Homo sapiens: one gene and its partners. The protein of the gene in region 2 interacts with the protein of the main gene of each other region in a pairwise test. Each region holds a gene or a part of one and is shown on either strand. Other genes may lie near its edges.

The links.
Region 1: the proteins of SLC19A3 (region 2) and C3orf38 interact in a two-hybrid assay, tested with the Homo sapiens proteins (one large-scale study listed by BioGRID and IntAct).
Region 3: the proteins of SLC19A3 (region 2) and CREB3L4 interact in a two-hybrid assay, tested with the Homo sapiens proteins (one large-scale study listed by BioGRID and IntAct).

Annotation. Positions count from the first base shown.
Region 1 is NC_000003.12:88,152,859-88,155,764, forward strand, and holds part of C3orf38 (uncharacterized protein C3orf38), read left to right. Parts: intron 1-371; coding exon 372-613; intron 614-2,906.
Region 2 is NC_000002.12:227,690,376-227,694,028, reverse strand, and holds part of SLC19A3 (thiamine transporter 2), read left to right. Parts: intron 1-3,653. UniProt on the Homo sapiens protein: Mediates high affinity thiamine uptake, probably via a proton anti-port mechanism. Has no folate transport activity. Mediates H(+)-dependent pyridoxine transport.
Region 3 is NC_000001.11:153,966,295-153,970,704, forward strand, and holds the start of CREB3L4 (cyclic AMP-responsive element-binding protein 3-like protein 4), read left to right. Parts: upstream 1-1,607; 5' UTR 1,608-1,870; exon of another isoform or gene 1,871-1,890; intron 1,891-1,955; exon of another isoform or gene 1,956-2,087; intron 2,088-2,227; 5' UTR 2,228-2,231; coding exon 2,232-2,405; intron 2,406-2,635; coding exon 2,636-2,882; intron 2,883-3,039; coding exon 3,040-3,161; intron 3,162-4,410. UniProt on the Homo sapiens protein: Transcriptional activator that may play a role in the unfolded protein response. Binds to the UPR element (UPRE) but not to CRE element.

The DNA of each region.
Region 1 (2,906 bases), on a different chromosome or scaffold from region 2:
AATATTGTTGTAATTGTCCCTATTTTTAGAGGTTGTGCATGAATTTAGGACTGTTGGCCTTATTAGAAAAAATATTTTTTCTCACTTAAATGTTTTCTTAAAATGTAATTCTTTAAGAGGAAATGCTAAACTTTCACTATCACTTATGGGAAGTGAACAGAAGAGATTTTAGGTAAGGGAAGTTTAAGGCATAAAGATGTTAAAAGAAAACTGACAACGGACTTCCTATTTTTTAAAAATGATGACTATCATGTAACAGCAATAATGCTGTGACGAGAGTTTATAAACATATTTGATAGAGTTTCTGCCCACCTGGCACAAATTTGTAAGTGCCTCATGATTTTTTATTAATCTTTGCAATTTCTTTCTAGATGCTGTTCATGCAATATTAGCATACAGTCAAAGTGCAGAAGAACTTCTGAGGCGTAGAAAAGTCCACCGAGAAGTTATATTTAAGTACTTGGCAACACAGGGGATTGTTATACCTCCAGCTACTGAAAAACACAATCTTATTCAGCATGCAAAAGATTACTGGCAAAAGCAACCACAACTGAAATTGAAGGAAACGCCAGAGCCAGTTACAAAGACAGAGGACATCCACCTATTTCAACAGGTAAAATAAATCTTATGGTTGTATTCTGAACCTTTGTTCTGTCTGAAACTTTGTTGATAATCCTAGATTGTGGGGAACATGGTTAATAATGTTTGTGGGGTTTTTTTATTTTTATTTTTTAAGAGATTCTTGCTCTGTTGCCCAGGCTGGAGTGCAGTGGTGTAATCATAGCTCACTGCAGCCTTGAACTTCTGGACTCAAGTGTTCTGCCCACCTCTGTCTCCTGAGTAGCTAGGGCTACAGGCATGCACCACCATGCCTGGCTAATTTTTAAAATTTTTTGGTAGGGATAGGGTCCCAACTATGTTGCCCAGGCTGGTCTTGAACTCCTGACCTCAAGTGGTCCTCCCGCCTCAGCTGGAATTACAGGCATGAGCCACCATGCCCAGCCTATTTTTTTTATATTTTATAATTTTAACTTTATTTCATATCCTATCAATCCTGAAGGAAGGAAGAGACCAGTAAAGCAACTAAGAGCAAAAATATTTCTGACATATAGTGATGCATATATAATCATCTATTGATATGTGAGAAAGTATTTTTCAATATCAGCATCATCAAATGAGGACTATTGGATTTTTAGAGAGTAAACTGCAAGGTTAATTTTAACTTTAGCTCCGTGTAATTTTTTTTCACTTTAGAAGAATTTTATTGCAAATTCTTTCTCACTTTTAAGACGTTTTTGGTATTGCAAAAATGTCATGAAAGGAACTTAAAATTTTACTTTAAAAAAAATTTTCTTTTAAGTTCCAGGGTACGTGTGCAGGTTTGTTAGATAGGTAAACATGTGCCATGGTGGTTTGCTGCGCCTATCAACCTATCACCTAGGTATGAAGCCCAGCATGCGTTAGCTATTTTTCTTGATGCCCCCGCCCCCACATTGGAACCTAAATATTTTTTATACTTTTTTTTTTTTAACTAGAAAAAGTCCTATTGTAGAAATATTCTCCAGCGGACATTGGCTGTTTCTGTTCTTTATATTATCTCCACTGTACATTTTAGATACTGCACAAATATTTAAGTGTTGCTTGAATTAACCTCTATGTAATTTGCAGATTTTTAAACTACATACCACATTTTTTGAATTAATGAGGTTTCACAGTGAGAAAGCTTTGCCTTCACACTAGGAAAGAATCTTTAAGAGCTTTCTTACTTTATGTACTGATAAGAGCATTGACTTTGAAATCATACAAATACGACTTCAAATTAGGGTCTGCAATATACTAGGTGTGTTAAATTAGGCAAATAACCAGTGCCACGCACAGTGCCCAGTGTATTAAATAGCAGGTGCTCAGTAAACCTAAGATCTCATACATCTCAGTAAAGTACTGTGTTGTGGAACACATGGATGAATGAGATCTAGTGTATCAGGTAGATTTTTACAGTAACTTTTTTTTTTTTTTTTTGAGACAAAGTCTGCCCTGTCACCCAGGCTGGAGTACAGTTGGCATGATCTCAGCTCACTGCAGCCTCCACCCTCTGGGTTCAAGCACTTCTCCTGCCTCAGCCTCCCAAGTAGCTGGAATTACAGGCATGCGCCACTACACTCAGCTAATTTTTGTGTTTTTAGTAGAGACGGGGTTTCACCATGTTGTCAAGACTGGTCTTGAACTCCTAACCTCAAGTGATCTGCCTGCCTCAGCCTCCCAAAGTGCCGGGATTACAGGCATGAACCACCACGCCCAGCTTACAGTAACATTTTCTGTGAAAAAAGAGAAATAATAGAATAAAATTAATCCCAGTTATAGAAAATAACCTGTTTCAATCACCGTAAGAGTATCTATTTAAAGACAATGAAAATGCTTGCTTATATTAACTTTATGTCATTTATATGCAAAATGCATCCATTTAAAGTGAACGTTTTGAAGGTTTTCACATATATACCTGTGATATACATATATACCTGTGAAAACACTGCCACAATCTGAGGAAACACTTACATAAATCATCATATAATTTATATATTTTTATATATGACTGTTCATACTGATTTTTTTTTTTTTTTCACACGGAGTCTCGCTCTGTTGCGCGGGCTGGAGTGCAGTGATGCTATCTTGGCTCACTGCAACCTCCACCTCCCAAGTTCAAGTGATTCTCCTGCCTCAGCCTCCTGAGTAGCTGGGAATACAGGTACACGCCACCATGCCCGGCTAATTTTTGTATTTTTAGTAGAGACGGGGTTTCACTATATTGGCCAGGCTGGTCTCAAACTCCTGACCTCACCATCCGCCTGCCTCCTCCTCCCAAAGTGCTGGGATTACAGGCGTGAGCCACCACGCCCGCCAAGTTCATA
Region 2 (3,653 bases):
GTGAGATAATATCTCATTGTAGTTTTGATTTATAATTCTCTTATCAATGATGTTGAGCACCTTTTCATATACCTGTTTGCCATTCGCATGCCTTTAAAGAAACATCTGTTCAGATTTTTGCCCATTTTTAATCTGATTATTAGACTTTTTTTCCCTGTAGAGTTGTTTGAACTCCTTATATATTCTGGTTTTTAATCCCTTGTCACATGGGTAGTTTGCAAATTTGTTTTTCCATTCTGTGGGTGGCCTCTTTCCTTGGCTGTGCAGGAGCTTTTTAACTTGATGTGATCCCGTTTGTCCATTTTTGCTTTGGTTGCCTGTGTTTGTGGGGTACTCAAGAAATCTTTGCCCACTCCAACGTCCCAGAGAGTTTCCCCAATGTTTTCTTGTAGTTGTTTCATAATTTGAGGTCTTAGATTTAAGTCATTAATCCATTTTGACTTGATTTTGTATATAGTGAGAGATAGGGGTCTACTTTCATTCATTCTTCTGCATACGGATATTCAGTTTTCCCAGCACCATTTGTTGAAGAGACTGTCTTTTCCCCAATGTATGTTCCTGGCATCTTTGGTGAAAATGAGTTTACTGTAGGTGTGTGGGTTCACTATTGGGTTTCTGGGTTCACTCTTCTGTTCCATTGGTCTACATGTCTGCTTTTATGCCAGAACTATGCTGTTTTGGTTACTATAGCTCTATAGTGTAATTCAAAGTCAGGCAATGTGATTCCTCCAGTTTTTTGTTGTTGTTGTTGTTGTTGTTTCATTTTGTTTTGTTTTGCTTAGGATAGCTTTGACTATTCTGGGTCTTCTGTGGTTTCATATAAATTTTAGAATTGCTTTTTCTATTTCTGTGAAGAATATCCTTGGCATTTTAATAGGGATTGCATTGAATCTGTAAATTGCTTTGGATAGTATGGGCATTTTAACAATATTGATTCCTCCAGTCCATGAATATGGAATATCATTCCATTTTGTGTGTGTGTGTCCTCTTCAATTTCTTGTATCAGTGTTTTATAGTTTTCATTGCAAAGATCTTTCACTTCTTTAGTTAATTCTTAGGTATTTTATCTGTAGCTATTGTAAATAGGATTACTTTCTTGATTTCTTTTCCAGATTGTTCTGTTTGCATATAGAAATGTTATGGAGTTTTGTATGTTGATTTTATGTCCTGCAAATATACTGAACTTATTTATCAGTTCTAATAGTTTATTGGTAAGAGTCTTTAAGTTTTCCTAAATGTAAGATCATATCGTCTGCAAGCAAGGATAATTTGACTTGATCCTTTCCAATGTGGATGCCCTTTATTTCTTTCTCTTGTCTGATTGCTCTAGAGAAGACTTCCAGTGCTATGTTGAATAGCAGTGGTAAAAGTAGGCATCCTTGTCGTGTTCCAAATCTTAGAGAGTAAAGCATTTCAGCTTTTTCCCATTCAATCTGGTACTAGCTGTAGGTCTGTCATATATGGCTTTTATTATGTTGACTATGTTCCTTCTATACCCAGTTTTTTGAGGGTATTTAGCCAGAAGGAATGTTGAATTGTATCACATACTTTGTTTAGCATCAATTGAATGATCATAGTTTTTGTCCTTCATTCTGTCGATGTGATTTATCACACTGATTGATTTACATATGTTAAATGATCCTTGCATCCCTGGGATAAATCCCACTTAGTCATGATAGATTATCTTTCTAATGTATTATTGAATTCAGTTTGCTAGTATTTTGTTGAGAATTTTTGCATCAATATTCATCAGAGATTGGCCTGTAGTTGTTTTTTGTTTTTAATGTGTCTGGTTTGGTGTTAGGGTAACACTGGCCTTGTAGAATGAGTTTGGAAGTATTCCCTCCTCTGTTTTTTAGAATAGTTTGGTTAGGATTGGAATTAGTTCTTTGATAGAATTCAGCAGTGAAGCCATTGGGTCCTGGGCTTTTCTTTAGTGGGAGGCTTTTTATTATGACTTCAATCTTATTACTTATTATTGGTCTTCTCAGGTTTTGGATTTCTTCATGGTTCAATCGGATAGGTTGTTTGTATATAGGAATTTATCCATTTCTTCTAGATTTTCCAATTTATTGGCATATACTTGCTCATAGTAGCCACTGATGATCCTTTAAATTTCTGCAGTATTGGTTGTAATGTTTCCTTTTACATCTCTAGTTTTATTTACTTGGGACTTCTCTCTTTTTCTTAGTCTGGCTAAAGGTTTGTCAGTTTTATCTTTTCTAAAACCCAACTTTTTGTTCATTGACATTTTGTATTGTTTTCTTCATTTCAATTTCATTTCTTTCTGATCTGATATTTATTATTTCCTTTCTTCTACTAATTTTGGGTTAAGTTTACTCTTACTTTTCTAGTTCTTTATGACGCATCATTAAGTTATTTATTTCAGATGACTTTTTTTTTCTTCTTTTCTTTAAGAGACAGGGTCTTACTATGTTCTCCAGGCTGAACTGCACTGGCGTGATAATCTCTACTCACTGCAACTTCTGCCTCCTGGGCTCAAGTGATCCTCCTGCCTCAGACTCCTGAGAAGCTGGGATCACAAACATGCACCACCACACCTGGCTAATTTTTGTGTATTTTTGGTAGAGACAGGGTTTCACCATACTGCCCAGGCTGGTCTAGAACTCTGGAGCTCAAGTGATTCATCTGCCTCAGCCTCGCAGAGTGCTGGAATTATACACATGGGCCACCACACCCGGCCTCTCTTCTTTTTTTTATGTAGGCACTTGTAACTATAAACTTCCCTCTTAATACTGCTTTCACTGTGTCCTATAGGTTTTGGCATGTTGTGTTTCCATTATCATTTATTTCAAGAAATTTTTCAGTTTCTCTCAATTTCTTCATTGACCCACTGGTCATTCAGGGGCATATTGTTTAATTTCCATGTGTTTCTATGGTTTCCAAAATTCCTCTTGTTGTTGATTTCTAGTTTTATTCTATTGTGGTCAGAGACGATGTTTGATATTAATTATTTCAAATTTTTGAATATGTTTTAAGAGTTGTTTTGTAACCTAACATGGTTTATCCTTGACAATGATCCATATGCTGAGAACAATGTGTATTCTGTGGCCATTGGATGAAAAGTTCTGTAAATATCTATTAGGTCCATTTTTTCTATAGTGCAGATTAAGTCTGATGTTTCTTTATTGATTTTCTCTCTGGAAGATCTGTCCAGTGCTGAAAGTGGGGTTTTAAAGTCTCCAACTATTACTGTATTGGATTCTCTTATCTCCTTCTAGCTCTAATACTTGCTTTATATATGGGTGCTCCATACGTTAAAAAAAATTTACAATTTTTTTTTTTTTTTTTTTTTTTTTTTGAGATGGAGTCTCGGTCTGTCACCCAGGCTGGAGTGCAGTGGCACGATCTCAGCTCACTGCAAGCTCCACCTCCCGGGTTCACACCATTCTCCTGCCTCAGCCTCCCGAGTAGCTGGGACTACAGGCGCCTGCCATCATGCCCAGCTAATTTTTTGTATTTTTAGTAGAGACGGGGTTTCATCGTGTTAGCCAGGATGGCCTTGATCTCCTGACCTCATGATCTGCCCACCTCGGCCTCCCAAAGTGCTGGGATTACAGGCATGAGCCACCGCGCCTGGCCGTATTTACAATTTTTATATTCTCTTGCTGAATTGACCCTTTTATCATTGT
Region 3 (4,410 bases), on a different chromosome or scaffold from region 2:
GAAGCATCCAAATCTTGGTTCAGCTACTTACAGGGTAACCTTGAGAAAGTTACTTAAACTTGTCAGCTCGGACGGGCGTGGTGGCTCACGCCTGTAATCCCAGCACATTGGGAGGCCGAGGTGGACGGATCACGAGGTCAGATCGAGACCACCCTGGCTAACACGGTGAAACCCTGTCTCTACTAAAAATACAAAAAAATTAGCTGGGCGCCTGTAGTCCCAGCTACTAGGGAGGCTGAGGCAGGAGAATGGCGTGAACCCGGGAGGCGGAGCTTGCAGTGAGCCGAGATCGAGCCTCTGCACTCCAGCCTGGGCCACAGAGCAAAAGAAAAACAAACAAACAAACTTGTCAGCTCCATCTGCTGTAAGAATTATATGAGTAACATGGAAATGCCTGACTAGACCCTGTTCCCGTTTTTACCCTTAGCCCGTTCAAATCTTCATAAGGATAATTAGTAGCAGTTTGAGTTCTGGGATTCACACTCCAAACTACTGTTTTACTCACCCAGCTACCCTTTTCTGAAATACTACTGAAAACCATACCTGTATCAGTTTACCTCCATTGTTTTACTTGAAGTGAATTCCTGGACCATCAGACATTAGACCAAGGCAAAAAAATAAAAATAATCAATCAACCCTGAGTTTTGGTATTACTACTTTCTAGTCATGGATCTGCCTCCTCATAGGTAAAATTTGCAAAATATTACCCGCCGTGTGTGCCTCAGAACTGTTATGGATTAAGGAAGAGAACAATTTTTATGAAAACGTTTTGTAAATTATACAAGTGTGGGACATAATGTTCCCGGTAACTGTATGCAAACAATAAGACAACAAACGCAAAAGGCTTTTTAACTTGTTGCAGTTTTCCTGCCCCGTGTCCCTCCGTGAATGAGCAGCGTGCAGCGAGCGTGTGCGCACAGCTGCTGTTCTCCATTAACGCCACACTGCTCGGCTTGCGGACGGGGAAACCCGCCATCGCGCTCCTGCCGCCTGCCGAGCGAGGATCACCGCTCCACTGGGGTCAGCGGGCTGTTGACTCCCCGCCTGGGTGAAACCGGAGCTTCCGAGTCACGTGGCGCGCGAAGACAAACCTGGCTGCTCAGGGTTTCCCGGAGCTTTCTCCCAGCTTCCCGGCGATTCATATTCTGGCGCTTACCCCTCCCTTTAGGCTGGCGGAACCCAATCCCCGCCTGACAAATAAGTCCCGCCGGCCGGACGCAGTGGCTCGCGCCTGTGGTCCTAGCTGCTCGCGGTGCTGAGGCGGGAGAATCACCTGAGCCCGGGAGGTCGGGGGCTGCATGGAACCGTGATCGCACCACCGCACTCCAGCCTGGGCAACAGAGCGAGACCCTGTCTCCAAAAATAAGAATAAAGAAAAAAAAAAGAAAGAACTGCGGCCCCATTGGCCTGACTCTCCTGAACAGCCAAACTGTCTCCGACCAGTTACGGAAGAGGCGGCCTTGAGAGGGTAGTGTGCCATTGGCTCGATGTCCTGCCCCTCCGAAACCTAAGTCTTCAGCTTCCAATCAGGACTCAGCTTTGGGAAGAGCGCCACGCGGTGGGCGAGGGGATGCCCTAGTAAATTCGCAGGTCTCTTGACTCTTTCCGCCTTTGTTTACAACCCTGCCATGATCTCCCTCTTGCAAAAGCGAGGGCTACAGAACAGGCATTCAGGAGTCCTGTGCTCCAGTCACAGCCTTTTCTGTTCTTCAGCTAGGAGACACCAAACCCTCAGGAAGATTTACTATAGCTAAGAGAAAACTGCAGCAGAAAGGGCGCGGCTACCTACTTCTTAAATTCCGTTTGTGGACCCTCAGACTCTTAGTCCCCTACTCCCAGATACAGCGGCCCTACCGTGGCTCCTGGCAAGGTGGCATCCACTTTTGTAGTGTAAGGCTGGGGGCGGGGTTTGGCTGGCAGGTCCAGGATACGAGATCCTGGAAGAAAGAAAAGGTGTAGTGTTTGGGGAGGTCAACGGGCTATGCTGGCTTGACAGGGCTGGGCTCTTCAGAACAGGTAATGCTTGGGGGGGGCCTCTTTGTCTAAACCTGAGGGATAGGGCTGAAGGTGAAATATCGAGGGGACAGGTGAGGGGGCTTGCTAGTGAGGAAGGAGTGGGGGGGCGGGGATAATGGAAAAGGGAGCAGAGGAGCCCAGAAACTGTAGGGGGTAGTAAGCAGCCATCATTCCGTTTCTGCAACCCTCCGTCCCACACGCCTTCCTGCAGAAGCATGGATCTCGGAATCCCTGACCTGCTGGACGCGTGGCTGGAGCCCCCAGAGGATATCTTCTCGACAGGATCCGTCCTGGAGCTGGGACTCCACTGCCCCCCTCCAGAGGTTCCGGTAACTAGGCTACAGGAACAGGGACTGCAAGGCTGGAAGTCCGGTGGGGACCGTGGCTGTGTGAGTGTGACGAGTGGGAGTGGGGGTGGGGTTGAGACACAACTCTGTGATAAGAGGCTTCAGCTCCCACTTGGAGACAGGTCTGAAAACAGACCACCCCCAAAATAGACGTAAGTTGTATAATAACTGTCTCCATGCCCAAGAAGTGAAAGGACTGAAAATGAAGCATAAGTCAGGGAGGACTTCCAAAATTCTTCCCTGCACATATATATAACCTTTTCCTACTGTAGGGCCTTCAAGAGAGTGAGCCTGAAGATTTCTTGAAGCTTTTCATTGATCCCAATGAGGTGTACTGCTCAGAAGCATCTCCTGGCAGTGACAGTGGCATCTCTGAGGACCCCTGCCATCCAGACAGTCCCCCTGCCCCCAGGGCAACCAGTTCTCCTATGCTCTATGAGGTTGTCTATGAGGCAGGGGCCCTGGAGAGGATGCAGGGGGAAACTGGGCCAAATGTAGGCCTTATCTCCATCCAGCTAGGTCAGTGTTCTTTGTGGGAAGGGGGAAATGGCCCTTCGGGACTGGCCCTAACCATGGGGTTAAGGGGGTTTACCCAACCTGTGCCACTACCCAGGCCCTGCGGCTGTCAGGGTGTTCCTAAGTCTCCTTTCTCCCAGCTACCTGTTTTCTACTCCAGATCAGTGGAGCCCAGCATTTATGGTGCCTGATTCCTGCATGGTCAGTGAGCTGCCCTTTGATGCTCATGCCCACATCCTGCCCAGAGCAGGCACCGTAGCCCCAGTGCCCTGTACAACCCTGGTGAGTCTTGGTGTCAGCCAGAACCACTACTCCTTGATACATATATAATCACACAGACAGAGCAAAGGGATGAGGGAATGGAAACTGATGATGAACTGCCTTTGCCCCGGTTTTTGTGGCATTGGGCCTGAAGACCAAGGAGACATGAACAGTTGAACTATTTTTTATTTTTTGAGCCAGGGTCTTACTCTGTCATCCAGGCTGGAGTGCAGTGGTGCAATCACGGCTCACTGCATCCTCAACATCTTGGGCTCAAGCAATCCTCCTGCCTCAGCCTCCTGAGTAGCTGGGACTACAGGTGTGTGCCACCACGTCTGGCTAATTTTTGTAGAGATGGGGTTTTGGGGTTTTGCCATGTTGCCCAGGCTCAGGCTGGTCTTAATCTCCTGAGTTCAAGTGATCTGCCTACCTCAGCCTCCCAGGGTGGTGGGATTACAGGCATGAGCCACTGTGCCCGACTAACATGAACAATTTTTTTTTTTTTTTTTTTTGAGACGGAGTCTCACTCTGTCACCCAGGCTGGAGTGTGGTGGCACCATCTCAGCTCACTGCAACCTCTGCCTCCCGGGTTCAAGCGATTCTCCTGCCTCAGCCTCCCAAGTAGCTGGGACTACAGGTGCCTGCCACCATGCCTGGCTAATTTTTGTATTTTTAGTAGAGACGGGTTTCCACCATATTGGCCAGGCTGGTCTTGAACTCCTGACCTTGTGATCCGCCTGCCTCTGCCTCCCAAAGTGCTGGGATTACAGGTGTGAGCCACCACGCCTGGCCCAACATGAACAATTTTAAAAGCAGGGAAGGACAAGGGAGAAAGAACCCTTGGGGGTAAGGTAGCAAAAACTCAGTTAAGGTGGGGTGAGGGAATCTGGGGACAGGGCTCAGGAGAAAGCCCAGACTTTGCATGCATTGTATTCTTAGCCAGAGCCATTATCTCAGCCTTGGGTCAGGACACAGAAATGGGACAGGCCACCTGGGAATCCCAACTGGTTATAGGTACAGGAAGAAAGAAAAGCAATAGCAGCAATGTTTCCACTGGAACAGTTGCCCAGGAGGCACCCACTGGCTAGTGCTACAGTGTAGCAGAGGTATCACATTAGATGCCTTCTCAAGGCCGTCTGGGCAGCGTCCAAGGCTGGGTAAAGAGGGGACTATGCTCAGATCACTGTTCCTCCCTTTCCTCTGAAAATTACTCCTTGTACCCAAAAGGCAGGGACCAGGTCCTAGCCTCTCTTCAAATCTGCAGTTGAAG